3 separate regions of the Homo sapiens genome follow, and regions 1 and 2 are each linked to region 3. The links come from fine-mapping of genetic effects on gene expression. A gene starts in region 3. Each other region holds a variant in brackets. All regions are shown on one strand. Distances are from middle to middle.

Region 1 (8,182 bases), 230 kb before region 3:
AAATTTAAGAGACATGAGGAGAAGGTCTTATCAAAATGCTGGAGAGAAAAATGAAATAGATTGGGGCCTCTGAAGAGCATGGTGGGTTGACTTGTGTTTCCAACCAAAGATATATCTGAGTGCTAACTCCTGAAACCTGTGAATGTGAACCTCTTTGGAAATAGGATATTTTACATGTAATCAAGTTAAGAGGAAGTCATGTTGGATTAGGGTGGGTGCCAACTCCAATGACTGGTGTCCTCATAAGAGGGAGGAGAGGACACACAGAGATAGAGGAGACATGAAGGGAAGGCCATGTAAACACAGAGGCAGAGGTTGAGTTGTGCAACTACAAGCCTAGGAACACCAGACATCACCAGAAACCACCAGAAGCTGGTGGGGAATGCTTAGGATGATTTTTCCCTAGGGCCAGAGGAAGCATGGCCCTGCCAACACCTTGATTTTGGACTTCTAGGCTCCGGAACTGTGAGAGAGGAAATTTCTGTTCTTTTAAGCCACAAAGTTTTTGATATTTTGTTTTAGCGGCCCCAGGAAACTAACAAACACAAATAAATTATCCCTGAGAATGTTTGGGAGCTAATAAAAGACGCCAATCCAAGACAGGAAGCTAAAAATTCCCAAAACATAATAAATATCTAGTCAATCCAATAAATACCCAGTAAATCCATCAAAAAGGCAATATTTATTGTATTGCCTGGACACGGTGACTCACTGCGGTAACCGCAGCACACTGGGAAGCTGAGACAGGAGGATTGCTGGAGCCCAGGAACTTGAGACCAGCCTGCATAACATGGAGACCCCATCTCTACAAAAATTTTAAGGAATTAGCTGGATGTCATGGCATATGCCTGTAGTCCCAAGTACTTGGGAGGCTGAGGTGGGTGGATCACCTGAGCCCAAGAGGTTGAGGCTGCAGTTGAGAGCTATGATTGTACCAATGCACTCTTCTAGCCTGGATGACAGAGTGAGACGCTGTCTCAGAGAGAGAGAGAGAGAGAGAGAAGTGCGCAGGTGCTGGGACACGCCAGCTGTTCTGCTTACCTGTCCTTAACTAGCCCTGTGGCCTTGGGCAAGTTACTTAACTTCCCCACTGTCCCTTGGTTTCCCCATACGTTAAACGAGCCTCATAATGAACCTTATTTCGTAAAGTTTTGTCGGCGCTGCCTAGAAAGCCTTACAACAAAGGTCAATACTTGGCATTTAATAAGAGCTCAGTAAATCTTTGATTTAGTTTTCCAAACATCTCCAAAACTTCTTTTAAGCTACAGCAGCAAAAACCATGTGCAGTCTTCTAACCACAAAAGGCAACATGAGTTTTAAACAAAGTAAGGTATTGTTTTCTGATTTGTTTCATTTCTGATGCCCTTCCTGAATATGCCAGTTTTTTCTTAGCCTTTTTGGATAAGTAGCATATTGAGTTAATGTCTTCAATGAAAATAAAACTTCCACATCCAATCTTTCAGTCATAAATGAGTGCTATCTGCACCATCCGATAGGGATTGTTTTTCTTCTTAATACCTTACCTAATATTGCTTCACCCTAAGTAAAGCTCATTGGGAAATTTCATATTCACTAAAGGCAACCATAAGATTTGGGGAATCATATAATCAAGAATTGTATATATCTAAAAAGGAACATTATAAAATCCTTTAATGCAGACCACTTATAGTCCAACTTAAAGATGAGGAAATTGACTCTTAAAAAGATTAAATGACTCTTCCAAAATCACAAAGATAATTCAGTGATTTTTTTCCCCTACTAAATGTTCCTTTTTTCTGCACTTCATTCTCACTTAAGCAATTTATTGTCTAAAATAGCATCATGGAATGATATAAAAATGCAGCTTTCCAATCACACTAAGGGTCTCTCTATTTCTTCTCTTGACCACCAATCAGGAACCTTTGCTGGAAGCTTGTTTCTGATTGGTGAAAGTAAGCCATAACAGTGGAATGCCAAGGAGTAAATACAAAAGTGTAGCAACAACTGAGTTTGCTGTCTCACTACCCTCAGCCTAGGCCAACCTGGACTCCTTCACCCCAAATGAGGTGACCGCTACATTTTATATGAAGACACTGATTTACCATTCAACTGTGATCCATCTTATAACATGGCAATCCAATACAGACAGGAAGATAAAACTCAACAACAGCTAAAATAAAGTGTATTCCCAGGTAAAATAGACAAGTGCTTTAATTTGAAATGGATTCGTCCGATGAGTGTCAGTTACAAGGGCAGAGAAGGTACCAGTGCAGAAGAGCTCTGACTGTGGGCAGTGTCACCAGGTCCCACTAAGTGGCAACACTTGTGCTGGGTGACTTGACCCATCTTGATGTATAAACCCATAGCCAGACAGGACGTGCAAACAGGTCTCATGGTGAATGCGATGCTGTGGAAAATGACATGGAGAATGGCTGTCTCTCAGCTAGGGAGGAGGGTCTTGGTGTCCTAGTAAAGAATGTTCACGTCCTGGAGTTGGTGGTTGGTGTTCTATCTAGGCGATGAGAGAAGGATGCTTTTCCTAATGAGCACCTGGTGGGAATAGAGTCTCTCTTTGCACTTCGCTGGAGGAAGAAATTTCTACCACTTATTTTTTCTTCTTGCTTATAGAATACACATTGCAGAAAAAGGATGAAGTTGACCAGTGAAAAGTTGCCCAAGAACCCCTTTTATGCCTCTGTATCTCAGTATGCTGCTAAAAACCAAAAATTTTTCCAGTGGAAAAAGGAAAAGACTGGTACAAATCCTGATATTTAAGCTTCCCTTGGAAAACACTTTAACAGTTCATTTTGCATGCTAGAGCAAACGAGACAAGAAATAATGTGTTTTATTGATTTCAAGGAAGTGGTTAATCATTAGTCCTTTTGAGTTTTCCCGCAAGAATCTGTGAAATTGCTCATTTATCTGGTAGCAAATCGTCAGTGAGGTCTCACAGATAGTTAGGTCTTGATTTTACTCTCAGGACTTAAGGACATGCTTCTAGAAAACAGAAAGCAGATGTCACGTTTGTTAAAGAGAACAATGCCAGGCTTGACTTGCAATTATTATTTAAATACCTTATCTTCCCTAAAGTCTTAAAAATGTTATATTAGGGATGGGTTGCTCATTTGGTTAGAGGAACTCTCATTAAGGCTCAAATTAAGAATTTAACTCACCTCTCCAGAGAGCTTTGCCCATTGAAGACAAACCAATGCATAGACTTATACCCAGCCCTGCACTGTTAGGGCTCTACTTGGCCATGAGCAGGGTTAGTGTGAAACCAATCAACAAGTATTGTTTGTT[G/C]TTGTTGTTGTTGTTTTGAGATGGAGTTTCGCTCTTGTTGCCCAGGCTTGAGTGCAGTGATGCAATCTTGGCTCACCGCAGCCTCCGCCTCCTGGGGTCAAGCTATTCTCCTGCCTGAGTCTCCCGAGTAGCTGGGATTATAGGCATGCACCACCACGCCCTGCTAATTTTGCATTTTTAGTAGAGACGGGGTTTCTCCATGTTGGTCAGGCTAGTCTTGAACTCCCAAACTCAGGTGATCCACCCGCCTCGGCCTCCCAGAGTGCTGAGATTTACAGGCGTGAGCCACCGCGCCCGGCCAGTATTGCTTTATTACACAAGGCACAGTGTTAGGGCCTGTGACCATGACGTTTTTTCAGGTAATATTTCTTCCTTGAGCTAAGGAGGCCAGTTGTAGGAATGAGCACTAGAAAGCAAGAATGTCAACAGTGTTAGATGGATTTTATATGATTCATTACTTCAAGAGAGAAAATTCATATTGTGTGGTTGATGGAATTCCTTACCTTTTTAAAATCAGATTACACCCATGCTAATTTGGTGGATAAGGCATTGCAGCTCTTGAAGGAAAGAATACTGAAAGGAGACACTCTGGCATATTTCCTACGAGGTCAACTATATTTTGAAGAGGTATCATTTTTTGTTTATTCGTTTTCATTTCCTGTAATTCTGTTGTTAGATCCTCAGACAAAAATTTCATGTAGAGTTTCTTACTGTGTTATACTAGGGAAATTCTGTCCAATTACATCGACTATGGCTGTGGCTTTAACAGTAGGATACAGTGCTGCCAGCTTGAGGAGCTACCTGACTTTTCTTCATAAAATCCATGTCATGAAAGCCATTTATGGGAGTCGTTTTAGTATAAAATCCATTTCACACTATAGATTAAAAATCAAATTTTTATATTTTTGCTCAAAATATTTAATAATACAAATTATATTATCAGGCCGGGTGCGGTGGCTCACGCCTGTAATCCCAGTACTTCGGGAGGCCGAGGCAGGTGGATCACCTGAGGTCAGGAGTTGTAGACCAGCCTGGCCAACATGGCTACACCCCATCTGTACTAAAAATACAAAAAAAAAAAAAAAAAAAAAAGTAGCTGGGCATGGTGGCACACATCTGTAATCCCAGCTACTTGGGAGGCTGAGGCAGAGAATCGCTTGAACCCAGGAGGCAGAGGTTGCAGTGAGCTGAGATCGTGCCACTGCACTCCAGCCTGGGCCACAGAGCGAGACTCCCTCTCAAAAAAAAGTATGTTTGTATTACCAGGTATCTTCATATTAATAATAATTGAAGCCTTGATTTTTATCTAGTACTTAGGGGAAGCTTTAGTTGTTCCTGGATAGCATAGGAGGAAATCGCCCTCTTTCTCCACATCTTGTTGGGGTGGCCTGGGAAGTAGACTGAGGAATGGCTATGCCAGCTGTCCCCTCAACTTCAGTAATGTAGTTTCGGTTTTTCATTGACTTCCCCGGGAAGACTTGAAAAGGGACTGACTGTCTTTCACCATTTGTTGACTATTTGGGCAGCTGTTCACCTATATCCCACTTACTCTCTCACTTTTCGATGGCACCTTCGTCTATCCTGGCAACAAATGTTTGCTGAGGGCTCATCGTGCGCCTGTTACTCTGAGGATGGCAGAGCACCATGGCTGAGAGCATGCTTCCTCAGCGTGGGGCATGGGTTCAGATATGGCTGCATTGCTTGTTAACTGTGTGTTTAACTTGGGCACAAACACTTGACCACTTGGTGCCTTTGGGATTACTTTAAGATCATAATAAAAATAATTAAATATCTTCTGGGTGCTTCTAGGGATGGTATGAAGAAGCATTAGAACAGTTTGAAGAAATCAAGGAGAAAGACCATCAAGCAACTTACCAGCTAGGAGTGATGTACTATGATGGGCTGGGGACCACTCTAGACGCTGTAAGTTAATGTCTTGGTCACAGTGGTTAAGATTTCATTGTCAGTGGATTATTGGACACAATTAAAATTATTTATATTTTAATACATATATATATACATATATATATATATATATATATATATATTTTTTTTTTTTTTTTTTTTTTTTTTTTTTTTTGAGACGGAGTCTCGCTCTGTCGCCCAGGCTGGAGTGCAATGGCGCGACCTCGGCTCACTGCAACCTCTGCTTCCCGGGTTCGAGTGATTCTTCTGCCTCAGCCTTCACAGTAGCTGGGATTACAGGCACTGCCACCACGCCTGGCTAATTTTTGTAGTTTTAGTAGAGACAGGATTTCACCATGTTGGCCAGGCTCTACTAAAAATACAAAAATTAGCCAGGCATGGTGGTGCATGCTTGTATTCCCAGCTACCTGGGAGGCTGCAGTGAGCCAAGATCATGCCACTGCACTCCAGCCTGGGTGACAGAGCAAGACTCTGTCTCAAACAAACAAAAACCAAAATATATTTGATTGTCCAATATTATTTTCTTCTTTTGGGTGATGTTTGAAGGTTTGTGTCTGATGGATTTGGGGGTGGAGGGTACAGATCTGTTCTTGCTAGTGGTTAGAATATCTTCTATGCTTTCCTTGTGACCACGTAGCAGATGTCGTATTAGTGCATAAGATTTGTATATTAGATACAAACTATGAGCACACAGTAAAAGTATGCTTGAATGGAAGACGGTGTTTGTTAGGGGCTCGCAAGTGTATCGTAAGAATTATAAATGTGAAAGCTGTTCCTGGCCATTCTTCCACTTTAGCCAGTTCTAAGAACTGTGCTGATTCAGGATAAGGGTTATTAGATGGGAGGGAGGAGAGAAAAAAGGAAGCCCATATCGAGACTTAAATCAACTCAGGCAGCTGTAAAAGGAAGGAAATTTCTTATATCCCAGAGCTCCTGGGAGTGCCTGAGTAGGAGATGTACTTTTAGAGATTCTTTTCCTCCTTATCGCTTGCCCTGCAGAATCCAGGACAATTGTACCCCTTGGGCACAGATTCATAGTATTATACATCGTGTCAGAGGGCGGACACTTCACAGCCTTATTGGGAGAAAGAAATTCAGTTTGGGTAAAACTAAAAACTAGGGTTTTTTTGCTCTTTCTTTTGTCGAAGGAGAAAGGGGTGGACTATATGAAGAAAATTCTTGATTCTCCATGTCCCAAAGCAAGACACTTAAAATTTGCAGCTGCTTACAACCTCGGAAGAGCTTATTATGAAGGAAAAGGTGTTAAACGATCAAATGAGGAAGCTGAAAGGTAATCCTACCTGAGAACAAGATTAGGTTTGAAGGAAATGCTGAAACCGAGAATAACATGCCTCACTTTCTCTTGTAGACTGTGGCTTATCGCAGCAGACAATGGAAATCCCAAAGCTAGTGTGAAGGCTCAAAGTATGCTCGGGCTGTATTACTCAACCAAGGAGCCCAAGGAGTTAGAAAAGGTAACGTTCCCTCTTTTTTAATGCTAGTGTTATATTTAGATTAATATTTGTTTCACTGCTTTTTTTGAGAAAATGGTGGGGAATGTCGTTTTAAATATCTCTTATAGTTCCTTTAAATGTAAAGAAAGCATACATTTTAGGATCTCAAAGCCCTTTTATTTATAAATGTCCCCTTCCCTACCTCTACCGAAGGAAACCATGAATGTGAGAGTATTTTGTATACTATAGTATCAAAGCTAAAAGAAGAGAAACAGTCCTGAAATTACAGCCAAAATCCTTCTAAGCATGAACAGATGAATATTACCGTTGACTTGAGAAATTGATACTAATAAGTAAAATATACCAAGAATTAGTTACAAATAAAATCCATCTAAGATTTTCACAGAAATATAATCTCTTTCATCAATGGTTGAAACAGTTTCCAAAAAATCCTATAAGGAGAAGGAAATGGGGGCTGAGTCCTACTTGTGAGAGAGGAGTTAATGGCAAATTTGCAAGAGACACATAACAACTAAGGCCATCTTTGGATAGATAAGCAGCCATCTGGAATTTTTTAAATGAATTCAAATTCACTGTAGCAGAGTATGAGGCAAATGTGCTTGAGCCTACATACAGCGTTTATCCTGGGTTGTCTTTGATCGCAGCAGCTGCTATCTCTAGAATCCACCGGGAGCTCGAACTCTCCCTTAGCATCAGTGGTTTCCCCTCCTCTGCTGTGCCTCACGCCTTTCAGACACTGAGTTCCTATTTGGCATCTTCCTGATCCTTACTCTGAAGATCCCCAAATCCTGAAACCTAGGACAGCTGGTCTTCCTCTGCCATAAGCTGCCTGGACTGTGATCTCACCTGCACTGTGGACAGACAGCGGAGGAACTCGCCTCCACACTGTGTTAGGCATGTGTGCTAGTGTGAAATGCGTCCAAAGGCCTACCGCTCTTTCCTAGAGATGATTAATAGTGCTATCTAGGAAACACAGAGTTCTTTTCTGTCTAGTATTCCCTTATAATTTCATCTAGTGGATCACAAATACAATGATGAAACTGTGCTTTTCTTAGGCATTTTACTGGCATTCCGAAGCATGTGGCAATGGGAATCTGGAGTCCCAGGGTGCACTTGGGCTCATGTACTTGTATGGACAAGGCATCCGGCAGGATACGGAAGCTGCCCTGCAGTGCTTAAGAGAAGCAGCAGAACGCGGAAACGTCTATGCTCAAGGGAATCTCGTGGAGTATTACTATAAGATGAAATTTTTTACAAAGTGTGTTGCATTTTCCAAAAGGTGAATGTCTTTGTCTGTTCTGTGCTGCTGTAACAGAATATCACACACTAGGTAATTTATGAGAAACAGAAATTTATTTCTCACAGTTCCAGAGGCCAGGAGAGGGCTGCAACCTCCAGAGGGGAGGACCATCATGTCCTCACGTGACAGCAGAAAGCTACAGGAAACCTCTTTTATAAAAAGGGCTTTAGTCCTATTCATGAGGGAGGTGCTCTCATGGCCT
Region 2 (8,182 bases), 96 kb before region 3:
GTCCCAGCTACTCAGGAGGGTGAGGAAGGAGGTCTGACTGAGCCCAGGAGATGCAGGCTGCGGTGACCCAGGACTGCACCACTGCACTCCAGCCTGGGCAACATAGCAAGACACTGTCTCAAAAAAAAGAAAGAAAGGAGTTGTTCCTGAATTTGAGTTCTTAAAATGGAAACTGCCTGTAAGGGCTGGGTATGAATATGACTGACAGTACATGCATATCTGAAGCATATTCTTTGGATATGTGTCTATCTTTATAACTTCCTTCAAAACTTTTAATTTTTTATTCTTATTTTTTATCTTCCTAGTTACAGATCTACTACCTCTTGCCCTGTGTCTGTATATTTCTTTTATCTCACTACTTCATACTTACATGTAACATGCAAACATATGTTTGTCACTACTGACTACATCTGAATAAGGCCTTTCATTTATTTAATGATAAAATGGTGGTTTCTCTAAGAGCTAGGGGAAGGGGAGAATGGTGAGTTAATGTTTAATGGGTATAGAGTTTCAGTTTGGGGGTTTTTTTGTTTTTTGATAGGGTCTCACTGTGCCACCCAGGCTGGAGTACAGTGGTGCAATCTTGGCTCACTGTAGCCTCAATCTCCCGGCTCAAGCAATCCTTCCCCCTCAGCCTCCTGAGTAGCTAGAACTACAAGTGTGTGTCCCGCTATGTTTTAAGTTTTTTGTAAAGATGGGAGTTTCCCCATGTTGCCCAGGTTGGTCTTGAACTCCTGGCCTCAAGCGATCCTCCCACCTAGGCCTCCCAAAGTGCTGGGATTACAAGCATGAGTCACCATGCCTAGCAGAGTTTCAGCTTTACAAGATGAAAAGAGTTATGGAGATAGATGGTGGCAATGGTTGCACAACATTATAAATGCATTTAGTATCACTGAACTGTATACTCAAAAATGGTTCAGACAGCAAATTTTATAAGTATTTTACCATAATAAAAATCAAATTGCAAGGGAGATGGGTTTATGAGAATAATGTTTTCTATTTTAGCTCTATTTAAGCAAAACCCCTACCTATTATTCTTTCAATCTGATTTTCCAATCTGGTTCTGAAGTTCCCACATCCCACCCGCTAGGAATCACTGGCCCTTACTAGAAAGAAAACAGTTCTTTTTTCCTATCCCATCCCCATAGCCTGATGGAGAATCTGTAAGCCAGGAGAACAGGAAAGAGAAAAAAACACCTCATGGGCCAAAAATAACTGGGTTACTATGTGCAGTGTTATGATATATATTGGTTTTCATCCAGGGTTCCTGGCTCCTAACTCCCACAGCCCTTGTTACAGTCTTTTGTTATAATGTTGGGTGTGTCGGGCCTCGGGGGCAAGTCTCTGACCTTTTTCTGCCCTCCTTCTACTCTCAGGGGCCCCTGCCTCTCTGACTGTGGGTCTTAGGACCCTCCCATCAGAGATCCCACCCTATACTCTAGAGGAAGGAAAGCTCCAGAGGACAGGGCTCAGTGAGCTTCGGGACAGCTGAACATGTGAGGTTCCTGGAGGGTGGTGCCCAGGGAGGGCATGAAAGCTCCGCACCCCTCCCCCATACCTCACCGTAGCATTTCTTCATCTGCATCCTTTGCAATATCTTCTACAATAAACCAGTAAATGTAAGTAAGCGTTTCCCTGAGTTCTGTGAGCTGCTCCAGCAAATTAACTGAACCCAAAGGGGGCTCATGGGCACCTCAAATTGAAGCTGGTTGGTAAGAAATTCCAGCAGCCCAGACTTACAGACTGACGTTGGGGGTGGGGGGTTGAGGGCTCTTGGGGACTGAGCTTCACTTAATCTATGGGCTCTGACACTGTCTCCAGGTAGACGATGCTGGAACAATTAGAGGACACCCAGCTGGTGTCCGCTTGCTTGGTGTGTGGGGAAAAAAACCCCACACATTTGGTCACAAAAATCTTCTATGTTTATGTTTGTTGTGGTATGAAAGTAGAGGAAAAAGTTTTCTGTACACATTCTGCATGGAAATTCCTTTTTACGGATTTAATATTTCTGAAGCCAGAATCTCCTCATGTCTGAATGAGCAGCCACTACATACTCTTATTTCTTTCAGGTCAAAAGGGTAGAATCCACTAATCATTTTCCCCAAGATGAAATTTCAGAAAAAAAGAGAAAGAAGCTAATGAAAATTCAACAAATTTAAAACATGAATAAATTCCTGTGGCTCTGAGGATAACCAAACAATAATTGTCTTCATTCTCCTATTTATAGGTTTGAAAAAAAGAAACTTCACAAGGCAGATTTCCCCAAAGACTTACTCTATTATGCTAGCATAGGCTTCAGGTAAAGACAACCTCTTCCTGACAATCATCTTCCTAAAATGCCTGTTTTAGGAAAGATGAAAGAAAAATACGTGTACTTTGCCCACTGTCACAAAGGATAACTGATAATCTTCAGTATCCTGGTCCAGAAACGAGGACAGGGTACTCTACTCTTGCTTTAAGTTTTCAGTATGCGTATCACAATATTAACTCATAAAAGCTCTTGGTGAACCAGACCGCTATCCTGTAAAAAAAAAAATACACCTGTCCTCCTCTCCCTCTCCCTCCTCTCCCTCTCCCTCCTCTCCCTCTCCCTCCTCTCCCTCTCCCTCCTCTCCCTCTCCCTCTCCCCACGGTCTCCCTCTCCCCACAGTCTCCCTCTCCCTCTCTTTCCACGGTCTCCCCGATGCCGAGCCAAAGCTGGACTGTACTGCTGCCATCTCAGCTCACTGCAACCTCCCTGCCTGATTCTCCTGCCTCAGCCTGCCGAGTGCCTGCGATTGCAGGCGCGCGCCGCCACGCCTGACTGGTTTTCATATTTTTTTGGTGGAGACGGGGTTTCGCTGTGTTGGCCGGGCTGGTCTCCAGCTCCTAACCGCGAGTGATCCGCCAGCCTCGGCCTCCTGAGGTGCTGGGATGGCAGACGGAGTCGCGTTCACTCAGTGCTCAATGGTGCCCAGGCTGGAGTGCAGTGGCGTGATCTCGGCTCGCTACAACCTCCACCTCCCAGCTGCCTGCCTTGGCCCCGCAAAGTGCCGAGATTGCAGCCTCTGCCCGGCCGCCACCCCGTCTGGGAAGTGAGGAGCGTCTCTGCCTGGCCGCCCATCGTCTGGGATGTGAGGAGCCTCTCTGCCTGGCTGCCCAGTCTGGAAAGTGAGGAGCGTCTCTGCCCGGCCGCCATCCCATCTAGGAAGTGAGAAGCATCTCTGCCAGGCCGCCCATCGTCTGAGATGTGGGGAGCGCCTCTGCCCTGCCGCCCCGTCTGGGATGTGAGGAGCGTCTCTGCCCGGCCGCCCCGTCTGAGAAGTGAGGAGACCCTCTGCCTGGCAACCGCCCCGTCTGAGAAGTGAGGAGCCCCTCCGCTCGGCAGCCACTCCGTCTGGGAAGTGAGGAGCGTCTCCGCCCGGCAGCCACCCCGTCTGGGAGGGAGGTGGGGGTCAGCCCCCCGCCCGGCAGCCGCCCCGTCC[G/A]GAAGGGAGGTGGGGGGGTTAGCCCCCCGCCCAGCCAGCCGCTCCGTCCGGGAGGTGAGGGGCGCCTCTGCCCGGCCGCCCCTACTGGGAAGTGAGGAGCCCCTCTGCCCGGCCAGCCGCCCTGTCCAGGAGGGAGGTGGGGGGGTCAGCCCCCCGCCCAGCCAGCCGCCCCATCCGGGAGGTGAGGGGCGCCTCTGCCCGGCCGCCCCTACTGGGAAGAGAGGAGCCCCTCTGCCCGGCCAGCCGCCCCATCCGGGAGGGAGGTGGGGGGGTCAGCCCCCCGCCCGGCCAGCCGCCCCGTCCGGGAGGTGAGAGGCGCCTCTGCCCGGCCGCCCCTACTGGGAAGTGAGGAGCCCCTCTGCCCGGCCACCACCCCATCTGGGAGGTGTACTCAACAGCTCATTGAGAACGGGCCATGATGACAATGGCGGTTTTGTGGAATAGAAAGGGGGGAAAGGTGGGGAAAAGACTGAGAAATCGGATGGTTGCCATGTCTGTGTAGAAAGAGGTAGACATGGGAGACTTTTCATTTTGTTCTGTACTAAGAAAAATTCTTCTGCCTTGGGATCCTGTTGATCTATGACCTTACCCCCAACCCTGTGCTCTCTGAAACATGTGCTGTGTCCACTCAGGGTTGAATGGATTAAGGGTGGTGCAAGATGTGCTTTGTTAAACAGATGCTTGAAGGAAGCATGCTCGTTAAGAGTCATCACCACTCCCTAATCTCAAGTACCCAGGGACACAAACACTGCGGAAGGCCGCAGGGTCCTCTGCCTAGGAAAACCAGAGACCTTTGTTCACTTATCTGCTGACCTTCCCTCCACTATTGTCCTGTGACCCTGCCAAATCCCCCTCTGCGAGAAACACCCAAGAATGATCAATAAAAAAAAAAAAAAAGAAAAAAAAAATACACCTTATTTTCTATTTAAATAAGTGAAAAACACACACAAAAAAAAACCGAAACAAAAAAAAAGAAAGCAAAGCATAAAAAAGATTTAAAAAACAACAACAAAAATAAAATAAAGTTTTGTCTTCATTTTAAGATTTAAACCTATTTGAAAACAACGTATCAAGATCATTTTTAATCACCCAGTGAGTTTTTCTGCAGAGAGAGAAAATTTTAAGAACATTTTCAGAGTATTTTTCTAAAGACAGAGCAAAACTTGAAAGCTTTTATTTTTTTTCTTTTTGAGACGGAGTCTCACTCTGTTGCCAGGCTGGAGTGCAGCGGTGCGATCTCAGCTCACTGCAAGCTCCGCGTCCTGGGTTCAAGCCATTCTCCTGCCTCAGCCTCCCGAGTAGCTGGGACTACAGGTGCCCACCACCACGCCCGGCTAATTTTTTGCATTTTTAGTAGAGACGGAGTTTCACCGTGTTGGCCAGGATGGTCTCGATCTCCTGACCTCAAGTGATCTGCCCGCCTTGGCCTCCCAAAGTGCTGGGATTACAGGTGTGAGCCACCGCGCCTGGCAGAAAACTTTTCTCTAATATATGTGACAGATCCTCAGCATGAAAAAGCATGTACGTTTTATCAATAAACCCTTTTCTGAATATATATCAGCTTTCTGTTTACTCCAGAGTACCAGCCGTAATGCGCTCAAACTGTCTTTGTGTCAAGGCTACTACAGACCCTCTTATGAGGAAACAACATCTAGAGAGAAGCCAGGCAGAGAAACCTGAGTACTCACACCAGAAGCAACTGAACAATCAGGAACTCCCTGGAATCCAGCCAACATACACACCTCATTGTCCACTGTTTTTAAGTAGGACACTGCTCACTGGGAGCCAGGGCAGCCAACCTGTAACGTGCAATTTTCTTCATGCCTATTACCTGGTCTTCTCAAATAAACAAGTGTCTCTCACCTCCATTACATACATTTAAAAGTTTGATGTATTTTTGGTGCTATTTTGAAAAGGAAAACAGTTGTACAGAGTTCAAGGGGTGACAGGTGTAATATCCTATAAAGCTACTGAAATGGTTCATCTTACAAAAGCAAACACAAACTCCCCAAAAATCATCATTAACCACATGGAGCCGTCCCATGGCTGAGTCTCTCCAAGTATATGCAGCATCTGACAATCTACTGGGATCTCATGACTAATACTCTCATTCTTAAACTATGATAGTCTCAAAACCAGGACCTCTTTCGAAACAACGATATTCTGCCTCAGCCTCAAAGACTAATTTATTCAAAACCAAAGAAATGAAGAAAATATGCATATCCCTCCTCAGAAGGATGAGAAGGGACTAAGAAACTTCAAAGGCCACCTACACCTAATATGATTAAGATTCTGACAAAAGATCATGACATGAGCAACAGTGTCACTCCCCACCTGGAAGCCAAGCAGCCGTGTTAAGAGAAAGAACACAGGCTCCCATGGCAGGCGGGCTCCACTCTGCCATTTACTAATGGTAGGTCCTTGACCCAGCCACTCCCCTCTCTAGCTTGCTTATTATGTGGGCTAATATGCCTCAGGAGGATCAAATAAATAATATCAGGGATCTAAAAAAAGATGATAGGGGCCTGACAAGGACTCTAAATGTGTGAAGGGGATTGCAACTACTGTGCTGAGAGGTGCTCTAAATTTTTTTTTTTTTTTTTTTTTTTGAGATGGAGTCTCGCTCTGTAGCCCAGACTGGAGTGCAGTGGTGTGATCTCGGCTCACTGCAACCTCCGCCTCCTGAGTTCAAGTGATTCTCCTGCCTCAGCCTCCTGGGTAGCTGGGACTACAGGTACGTGCCACCACGCCCGGCTAATTTTTGTATTTATAGTAGAGACGGGGTTTCTCCATGTTGGCCAGGCTGGTCTCGAACTCCTGACCTCAGGTGATCCGCCCACCTCGGCCTCCCAAAGTGCTGGGATTACAGGCACGAGCAACCAACCATACCCGGCCTGATTTTTTTTTTTCCAACAACAACACCAAAAAAAAAAGTCATGAATTTTGGACGATATCTCCAACTAATTCAACGTTATTACAAACTCTGCAGGCTGCCACTGTTTGGGCTAAACTTTGAGCCATGTTCAAGCCGTGGGCGTCTAGTCTGTAATGGCTGCTCTCACAAAGCTCTTAGAGCGCCCACCAGACAGTATCACAAATACAACTCAAAATGTTTACCAACTTCCAACAAATCCAAAGTGGGTTGATTGAGGGGTTTTCTAAAGGCACAGGAATGGCAGAAATAAAAGCACGGAGGGGTTGAAAAGTTAAGCAACCAGTAAGACACAGCATAACAGAGCACATAATTCTTGAAGTATTTTTGCCTTTGAGGATGTGCTTTACAGAGAGGAAAGCGCACATTCCCTGGAGATGTTTTGCTGTGACGTAAAGCATTTAAGTATCCAAACAAAACCTGGTTTGACAGTTTCCTGAGTTGTGCTTTTATTGTGCTGAACCATGAACTAAAGAATATCTTACTTTCCTTATCAAAAAAAACAGAAAATTGTTAACATGATACTGAGAGGTTATCATTTAGGGAGAGTGTATTAATAGAAAATAGTGGATTTGTGCCTTTTTTTCCCTCTTAGTCAAGCACAATTTCTACTTTAGATACAGGAAGGAGCAGCTATTCTTTAAAATTCAACCTACAAGTTTTCTCATATTACTGTTTTCCTAAATTTCAAAAATGCTATAATTTCTTTTTAAACTGTTATTTCCAATTACATAAACAGCAGAAATACATTCTCTATTATAGATGTAAGGAATTAAACTGACTCATAATGATGATCCAGATGATCACTAATAACATTTTGGTACATTTCCTTCTTGTCAGTGATTCCAACACTTACTATGTAACCTTGGGCAAGTTACTTTTCCATACCTCACTTTCCTCATACGTAAAATAGATAACAATAGTACCTACCTCACAAAATTGATATGAGCATTAATTAACACACACCAAGTACTGTAACAATGTCTGACAACAATAAATTATTGGTAACTTTTTCATCTGTATACTTTTTAAAAGAAATTGGGATCATGGTATACATACAACTTTGCATCTGGCTGTTTACACTCAGTATTTTATCATGAATATCTTTTATAATAATAAAAGACTCAGACAATGTTTTGAATAGCTTATATCATAATTTATTCTCTTATTCTATATTTAGTTTGTCTCCATCTTTTTTTTCTATTTAAATAAAAAATGTGGCCACTGTTATGCTACTGGTACCACCAAAAATGTTCTAAATCATACTAAAAGCGTCTATAAAATATATAGGTGGATTTGGACTCTGACTTGATTCAAAAGATTAAATGCCTCAAGAATTTTCTTTTGCTTCACAGGGGAGTCTTTTTTTTCTTCAGTCAGGGTCTCACTCTGTTGCCCAGGCTGGATGGAGTGCAGTGGCACAGTCATGGCTCACTACAGCCTCAAACTCCTGGGTACTATAGGAGATTGGTCAGGGTGGTGGGAAAAGTTATAAAAAGTTATAGGGAAAGATGCAAACCTTCTTGGAAGGCCAGGAGGTTTTGCAAAACTTCGGGAGAGAATAAAGCTGAAGGCAGCTAATTCTCTTACCCTGAGGCAGAGGGTGAGAAGTAGGTGCAAGGGAATGTAGAGGAGTTTATCTAGATAAGTTTATTTACTTATGTTGCCCGGAAACCGACCTTAGATCATCCGCACACCAGACTGCTCCCTGCAAGGGGGGACAACAATGTTAATTACCACAGATTGTGTTGACTCCAGGCCTCTGTCAGTACATCTGTACTGAACA
Region 3 (8,182 bases):
AACTAAGACAACTGATTTTCTTTCTTTTTTTTTTTTTTGAGACAGAGTCTTGCCCTGTCGCTTAGGATGGATGTGGTGGCATGCCATCTCAGCTCACTGCAACCTCTGCCTCTCGGGTTCAAGTGATTCTGATGCCTCAGCCTCCTGAGTAGTTGGGATTACAGGTGTGCGCCACCACACCCAGCTAATTTTTTGTATTTTTATTAGAGATGGGGTTTCGCTCGGTTGGCCAGGCTGGTCTCAAACTCCTGGCCTGAAGTGATACGCCCACCTCTGCCTCCCAAAGTGCTGGGGTGACAGGTGTGAGCCACTGCACCTGGCCTTGATTTTCAATGAATACTCTCTACTTAACATAAAATTCTAGGTGTCACAGTTATCTAAAGGGATGAAAACAGAGCACTTCCTAATCATAGAAAATTCTCCAGATTGTGATTTAAAACTTTTAGCAGAATCTTAGAATTTCTAAAGACTGCAGGAAAGTGCCTAAGACAAGGCAGGATTATGAAAGCCATTATCACTTTCTAGCCTACAGTAATGCTGGATAAGATAGATAGAATATGACCTGCCTAAGTTTGAAAACCGGAACTTTAAGCATTGTACGTTCTCATATAATACATTCTCAATATAATATCTGGCATTTAGAAGCTTGGCTGCTGACTGATACATGAATCATGCTAGAAAATATGCATTTTTGATCTTTTAAAAATGCATTTTACAGTTAATAAGAGTTCAATAAAATAGAAAGCGTGCATTAAGTGGTCTTTATTGATGTTTCACATTCAGTTATTATCAATTCTTCAGTTAATTGTACAAGTATGATAAATTATTTTCTATTTGCTGTGGGAATTTAAATGTAAAATAAATACAAAATACATGTGTGGTTTAATGAACACTCAATGAAGCATCTCTTCTGAGGTATTCCTTTCAGTCTGGTTTTATCCCAGATCTTTTTACTTCCCCTAGGAATAGTCTATTAAACCACACAATGGATCTGTGAACTTGTAGATCAAGTTCACTGTAAATCTGTGAACTTGTGTTTTAATTACATTAGACATATTTTTTGATCTCATCATACAACACCAATACAAAAGCACCGCCCATGCCTCTCAGCACATTGGACCAGGCACCTTTGAAGAAGGCCTTGGCTCCTTCGTCTTTTGCAATCTTCCTCCAGCAGTCAACTGTCCCCGTGTACATAATATCGGCTGTGGAAACAAATGCTGGTGAGGGCTCCGTAACGCTGGAGGAAAGAGACTTTTCCCCTGAAACATATCTGTACACACTGTTACCAGTTTTATAAAATCAGGGTCATCTGGGCATGGAGTCCCAGCTCCATGCAACATCCCACTGGACATCTCCTTCCTTGCTTCACTGGCAGGCTGGGTCTCCTGTCATTCCTACTCCATTAGTTCAAGGTCAGTGAAGAACTGGGGCAATTAACCAAGTAATTCATGGACTGCCCAACTGCGAAACAAGAAGGGCGCAGTGGAGCAGGAGTATTATGCTACGCGGTTACCTTTTTTTATGGAGGACCGAACTGAGGCCGAGCCTCAGATGATCCTGCACGAGGTTATGCAGTCTAAATAAAAGGCTGTAACTATTCGTTGAAACATACGAAACTGCTAACATTGGACTGTTTTTGACTTTTAAAGTGGCAATTTCGTATGGTTCAACCTATAGAAGCCAAAACTTTCTCTGGCACAACAGATTGCTTCAGGCCATCTCTACCCAGCTAAACACCCCATCCCACTAACACCTGTAACTAGGAGGGAAGCAAGAGTTCTTTGTAAGAAGTAGCTAACTACTTCTTTTCCCTAGCTTTTGCACCCAGGCTCTAAGGGAAGAGGGCCTAGGGTCTCTATAATGCTGGATACCTAGTTAAATTCACATCTAAATGTCTTACTATTCATGTTCTTATCATCTCTAATAAAATGGAAAATACTTTTCCCTAATAGGATAGTTGAGAACGTTAGGGGGAATTAATACCATCTTTCTTCCCTAAGTCCTTATCAAATAATTTTGAAAATTAATTTCCAGTAAGGAAGACTGAAAGGAGCCCTGTAAAATGTTCTCCTCGGGCAAAACCAAACAAGTTTAGATGAGTAGAGCACAAGCTTACCCCCTTTCCGGCCGGACTGCATCATCATTCTACGACGAACAGTGTCAAAGGGGTAGGACACCAGCCCTGCGACTGCCGTCACACTCTGGGCAATCATCCAGCTCACAAAAATGTGCACGTTCTTGGGGTCAGGCAGCATCCCTGTGGACAGAGCCCAGAAGCCGAACGGCTATGAAGTGCCTGTTCTCAGCAGAAAGCAGGTGGAGGGAGAGAGGCCACTGCACCTCCAGCTCCATGCTCTGACCTTGCGGGGAACCTGCCCCTGTGCAGGTGCTTCACATATGACCAGGCAGACAGCAAAGGTGGCTGCTGCCCTCTCCGGACCCCGGAGGGGCAGTGCTCAGCTTGTATACAGGGCATTGGAAGTGGCTTCAAGTTAAACTCAGTAACTGCTATGGCTGTGTCTAGAGGGAGACAGGCTCCCCCCTCCTCCTCTCTGAATAACTAAAGGCCAGAGTTTATTTCAGTAGAGGACACAAGGAACGCTTCAGCTATTAACTTATGCACATCACCTCCTCATTCAGAAGCCTCAATTATCCCAGAGACTAGAAAAAACAAGATCAATATATATCAGGTCCTTTGTGAGTTATAGATCCCATAGGATCCTCTTTCCACACCACCCTCCTTCTCCCCGATGCCCCTCTCTCACCCTTGGCAGTATCATAGACTCCGAAGTAGGCAGCTCTATAGATAATGATGCCTTGGACAGAGACGTTGAAACCCTGGTAGAGCCCCCTCAGGCCATCAGACTTGAAGATCTTGATGATACAGTCGCCCAGACCATGGAACTCACGCTGGGCGGCGCCCTTGCCCACATCAGCAGCCAACCTGGTCCTAGCAAAGTCCAGCGGGTAGACAAAGCAAAGGGAGGTGGCCCCAGCGGCCCCACCGGACGCCAGGTTACCAGCAAAGTAGCGCCAGAACTGCTTATGCCGATCCACACCCCCTAAGAAGAGCTGCTTGTACTTGTCCTTGAAGGCGAAGTTGAGAGCTTGGGTGGGGAAGTAACGGATCACGTTGGCCAGGTTACCCCTCCAGAAGGAGAGGAAGCCCTGCTCCTTAGGGATTCTCACCACACAATCAATGATCCCTTTGTACTGCTTCTCAGCACTGATCTGTTTGCTGGCATGCTGGACCTGGTGGAGGGGAGGGTGGGTGACAGAGGACAGGCAGGGTAGAGAGAAGGGAAGAGGACAGGAGAAAAAAAAAGGTTTGCACTTCCTAGATTTTTTTTTTGAAGAAAAAAAGGATGAGGAAATCAAATGGATACTGAGGACGTGTAAATGGATACTGTTATCCATGTTAGTTACTGGATAACAAGCCAAAATAATCCAATGTTGCTTCAATTATTAGGGTATTTGAGGGAAAAGGTATTGCCCCAAATAAACTGAAAAGGTGATTGAATTATATAAAGCTATAGCCATTTATTTATTTCACTTTCCCTAGGTTTGAGAACTGTATGAGGGGCTTACTGGGGGACAGAAATGAGTAACACTCCCTGCTTCAAAGGGCTTTGGATTTAATAGACATGATGGCCAAAAAATGACAATTTCTCAGTGTCACTCTGATCACCCTGGAGATGAGGATCTCTACTAGATGCTCTAATAGAGGAAGGAGAATAAATCCACTAAACATTAGGCCTCCAAAGTTTTCAAGCAGATAATCCAAGTAATCAATTATTAAGGGTTTGCTGCCGTTGTGAGCAATTTGTGGGGGTTTTGTTGTTAGTAATTCTGACTCCCAAATTGGGCTCTTCCTCATTGAGGGGCCCTGACCTTTTGGGCAGGTGGAGGAAAACACGAGAGGATGATAAACCATTCAGCGACCAGGTAGGGGAGGAAAAGATTTGGAGACAGGATGATCTGAGTTTATTCCGAAAATTGTTTCTTAATATTTCAAAACCTCAGCTTCATCTGTAAAATGGAGAAGAATAACTCTCTCACAGAGGTTACATAAAGATGAAGGCGTCAGCCTACATACAGCATTGTGCATGAGATACGATAAGGGAATTCTTGGGTGATGATTATTTTGATGTTTTTATTGTAAAGGTGCGTGCGCATAAGACGGTGCCAAAAATACTGGCAATCACTAGGTGCCTCCGGGCCTGAGTGCACGCCCGTGCTGTCACGGGCGCAGGATCTGGCACACGTAAACCGGCTCCGGGTGGGTTTCCATATATAGACACCCGAACGCCGGGCGCCACCCGACACCAGGAATCTGCGACTGACGCTGGACCTGTCTCTACGCAGAGGGCACCTTCTTCCCCCGCGGGCGGGCGGGCGGGCGGGCGGGCGCCCGGGCCTGTGGCCTGGCGCAGATTTTCCGCGGCGCCCCGCGCCCTGCAGCTCGCGCCGCATCGCGCGCCCCGCCCGGCCCGCCGCGCCCGCGCCCGCCTCTTGCACCGCGCGGTCCTCACCTGCAGCAGCAGTTTGACCCTCTCGATGGGGGCGACCGCGGTCTTGGAGACGGCAGCGGCGACGCCCCCGGCCAGGAAGTCCTTTAGGAAGCTCCAAGCGTGATCACCCATGGTGACAGCTCGACGCTCTCAGCCCGCAGGCAGCCCGTTCGTGCTCTCGCCCACGCCCGGCCTGGCACCGCCGCGCAGTCCCCGACCCTGCGCGACGCTAGGGGGCCGCCGCCTGGCCCGCAGCTCCCCCTTATATCCCCGCCGGGCTCTCGCGAGAGGAGGCGGGTCGCGGCCGGCGCTCGCGCCGCGCATTGGCTGGGCAGGTGCGGGGCGCCCCCTCCTCCCAGCTGCAGAGGGCATCGGGGGCGAAGGCGCTTCCGGGAGCGAGGCTGGGCCGGGGGCTGTCCCTGCAACTTGGGACGTTTAAAGGGCACATTCATGTTATCTGTCCCGCCGAGCCCAGGGAACACCGTGTCACCGCGGCATGTGGGCCGCGTATTTATAGCACAGGCAGCCTTAGGCCGGGGCGAAGCCGGGGCAGACACCGGGCCGCTGCCGCCGGTGGAGAGTTCTTGACCCTCCGGCCTGCACGGGCCGCGCTCAGGCCCAGGGATTTCGAGCTGTTTCCTCCTTCTTGCATCTAAAGGCGCCCCCCACCAGAGCTCACTGCCTGGATATGGGCCTCTTTAGAGCCGTGCGCTCCCGAGAATAAATGGCAGTCCTCTCAAATAGATACTAAGGTCACCTGATGCTGTGATTGCCTCATAGAATCTGACAACCTGCTGCCTCTCATTTCTTTTCATTCAATCGTTCGTTCAGTCATTCATTCTGCTATTACATATTGATGTGTCTGGCACTCAGTGCCCACAGGAAAGACCTGGTGCAGGGGGCCACTAGGTGAATTCATACTTGTTTCTGCAAAACTCTGTGACTCTAAAACACAGGACACTTCTTTTGTAAGCCCCTAAAGGGTTCAATGTACCACTCTGCTCTCAGCGGAATTTCAGCACATATTAGGGCAGAATGTTCTGTCTGTCAGCCGGTGCCTTCTTGAGGGTCAGTGCTGTCAGCCTTCCGGAGATCCAGTCCTTGGCTGTATTTGCCTCTTTTTAATGACAGCTGGGGTTGAGGAAATGCTATTTAATCCCAGGAAATTAATTGCAATTAATTTCTTAAAATATATAAATCTGAGCTTTAATTTTCCTTAGCTTGTTTTTTAGGCAGTTCATGTAACCATACAGGTTTTCAAATACAACTGTTCCTTCCCCTAGAATGACTGCAATTCGTTTTTAACTTTAAACTCTTCACTCAATTATCTTCCCATGTTTGCTAATTTTCATTTGTACCTTTAACAAAGTTTATTCATTGTTTTATAAACTTTTTTTTTTTAATATTTGCTGACATCATGTTAGAGGTTTACGGAGCTGCAGCTGCGTGTCACCCTGGGCGTGGAGACTTTGGTATAGCAGAAGTCACTAAGGTTCCAGGGCCACAGAGGGCATGCGTTTATCTAAGAGTGGGGCAGGCTAGAGTTCCGAAATCCAGGTAAGCAGAATGAAAGCTAGAAACTAGTGGAAAGCTGCCAGAGGTCAGAGCAGACAGAAGTCAAGAACTCGGAAGAGACAAACAGATAAACCATGTATGTGTTCATTCAACAGACTCTTGCTGAGCATGTACTGTGTACCAAGAACTAGGTGTAGCCCTGTGGATTGAATATAAGTAGACGTGGCCCATCTCCAAAGACCTTACAGTTCAGTGTATTCGTCACTTGCTCCACTTTATCAAAACTTCACTTACTGATTTCCATGGATCAGCATAATCCACACAGTAAACCTTTTTAATTATAATAGTGTACTGTATCCCATCCTGTAATATAGAGCACTTGCTTTTATACCTCCATTTTCCTTTTAATTGTGCATTAGAATTGTGTCTTATTTTTATGATGAAAAATAGGCCGGGTGTGGTGGCTCATACCTTTGGGAGGCTGAGGCTGGCAGATTACCTAGGTCAGGAGTTCGAGACCAGCCTGGCCAACATGGCAAAACCCCATCTCTACTAAAAATACAAAAATTAGCCTGGCGTGATGGCTCATGCCTGGAATCCCAGCAGCTCAGGAGGCTCAGGCACGAGACCCCCGAGAGGCAGAGGTCATGGTGATCTGAGATCACTCCACTGCACTTCAGCCTGGGCAACAGAGAAAGACTCTGACTCAAAAAAAAAAAAAGAAAGAAAGAAAGAAAGAAAGGAAGGAAGGAAGGAAGGAAGGAAGGAAGGAAGGAAAACTAATACTGCTACATTGAAACTTACACAAACTTCATTTTCTCCTCTAAGTTTTTTCTTCTCATATATTTCCCAAATGGAATGGATAGATTTAAGATTTTTAAAGTTTTGTAGCTTTTGCTACATATTGACAAATTGCTCTTCAGAAATACCAACCCACCAGTTATATAGATGGGCTTTCTCTCACACTCTTCTCCAACACTGGCTTTAAAAAAATAGAGAGTTGGTTATTTGTGAGTTATTTATGAGTTTTAGTTTGTATTTACTTAATTACTATGAAGCTGTATATATTCCATATGATTCAATTTAATTTGACAGTTTGACAAGGTTTCCCTTTTGTATAAACTTTTAATCTTCCTTGACTACTGCTGGAGTGAAAGCAGAGTATTTATATTAACAACAATTCTTTATATATTTGGGACAATAAATATGTGTTGAATGTTTTTCATTTTGTTGTTTTCCTTTTGATATTTATTATATCATTCTATTAGTGTTATGAACAGATCTATGGTATGATGATGATCTATTTCATGTTCTGATGTAAATGTATCTCTTTTATAGATATAGCAGTCTATTTACTCTAGTACATATATCAGTTTTTTTCTTCTACTTTGAGTAGCTATTTTTAAAATGTCTAACACTACGTTTTATATTGTATGGAGGTATGGGTCTAATTTCACTTTTCTCCATATCATGCTTGGGTATCCCAATACTAATTCTTAAGTAGATATTTTCTTCTCTCCATTATTTGTCTTATATTACTAAGTCTAGTTTGTCATATATTAAGTTCTCATAATAGCTTTAATTTATGAAATATCCACACTATGACATATTTATTTGATCTTCATTTTTTAAAAATAGGCTGATATATGATTCTACAATCACTTAAAAAATAAAGTTTTATCTGCTTATGTGTCTGGATTTATTTTTACTATCAAGTTGTTCAATTGTTTAAACATCACCAGAAGATTTTAAATAGACATTTAAACTAAATTAAATATTAATTAATATATGAATTCAGGAAGTAGTATCATCTTTGTTACACTTAATTTTACCAATCAGAGTTTTGGATATTTTCTAAATGGGAGATATATTTCTCCTTGGCTACTCTCCAGTTATCCTGTTCTATAGAAGGAGTCATAGCTGGAATCCTTGACAAGAGGTTTTCCATGGAAACTCATACACTGTCCTCTGCTTCCACGGACTTTCTCAGAAAAGAGAGGCCTTACATGCCCTCGGGAGCATGAGCTGCCTGTGGTCACAAGATCCTGGTATCACTTACACAGGCAGGGGAGAGAATGGCGCTCGGCAGAACATGTGTCCACCCGCCCAACCCAGTACTTAGTGGCTTTCTTCCAGCAGGAGAATGGACAAGG

Direction of the effects. Positions count from the first base shown, and alleles are read on the strand shown. Sizes are in standard deviations (SD) of each study's normalised expression. Not every link is listed here.
For the expression in Th1 cells of the gene that starts at base 4,753 in region 3, allele C in region 1 goes with a lower level than allele G (moderate effect, 0.71 SD a copy in Schmiedel 2018).

What was found. PIP is the estimated chance that this variant, and not a neighbour inherited with it, causes the effect.
Region 1: its variant is the best candidate, but not a certain one, in a credible set for the expression of SLC25A4 in Th1 cells (Schmiedel 2018, PIP 0.67).
Region 2: its variant is the best candidate, but not a certain one, in a credible set for the expression of SLC25A4 in blood mononuclear cells (TOPMed, PIP 0.58).

Annotation. Positions count from the first base shown.
Region 1 is chr4:185,372,633-185,380,814 of GRCh38, reverse strand. It overlaps LRP2BP (LRP2 binding protein), which reads left to right. Exons shown (of 9, transcript NM_001377440.1): 2 at 2,608-2,734; 3 at 3,797-3,906; 4 at 5,089-5,202; 5 at 6,354-6,496; 6 at 6,575-6,680; 7 at 7,736-7,959. The coding sequence starts at 2,629. It also overlaps a transcript of SNX25 not described here. Among named protein-coding and RNA genes, the nearest start is that of LRP2BP, 19 kb to the left of the region's middle. The variant G/C (reference allele first, on the strand shown) is at 3,280.
Region 2 is chr4:185,235,954-185,244,135 of GRCh38, reverse strand. The region is part of intron 1 of SNX25 (sorting nexin 25); the gene reads right to left. Among named protein-coding and RNA genes, the nearest start is that of SNX25, 30 kb to the right of the region's middle. RefSeq lists enhancers at 2,429-3,420, 3,421-4,413. The variant G/A (reference allele first, on the strand shown) is at 3,465.
Region 3 is chr4:185,139,837-185,148,018 of GRCh38, reverse strand. SLC25A4 (solute carrier family 25 member 4) reads right to left here and starts at 4,753. Exons shown (of 4, transcript NM_001151.4): 1 at 4,536-4,753; 2 at 2,769-3,255; 3 at 2,120-2,260; 4 at 1-1,205. The coding sequence starts at 4,646. The coding sequence ends at 1,048. RefSeq lists a silencer at 4,682-4,981.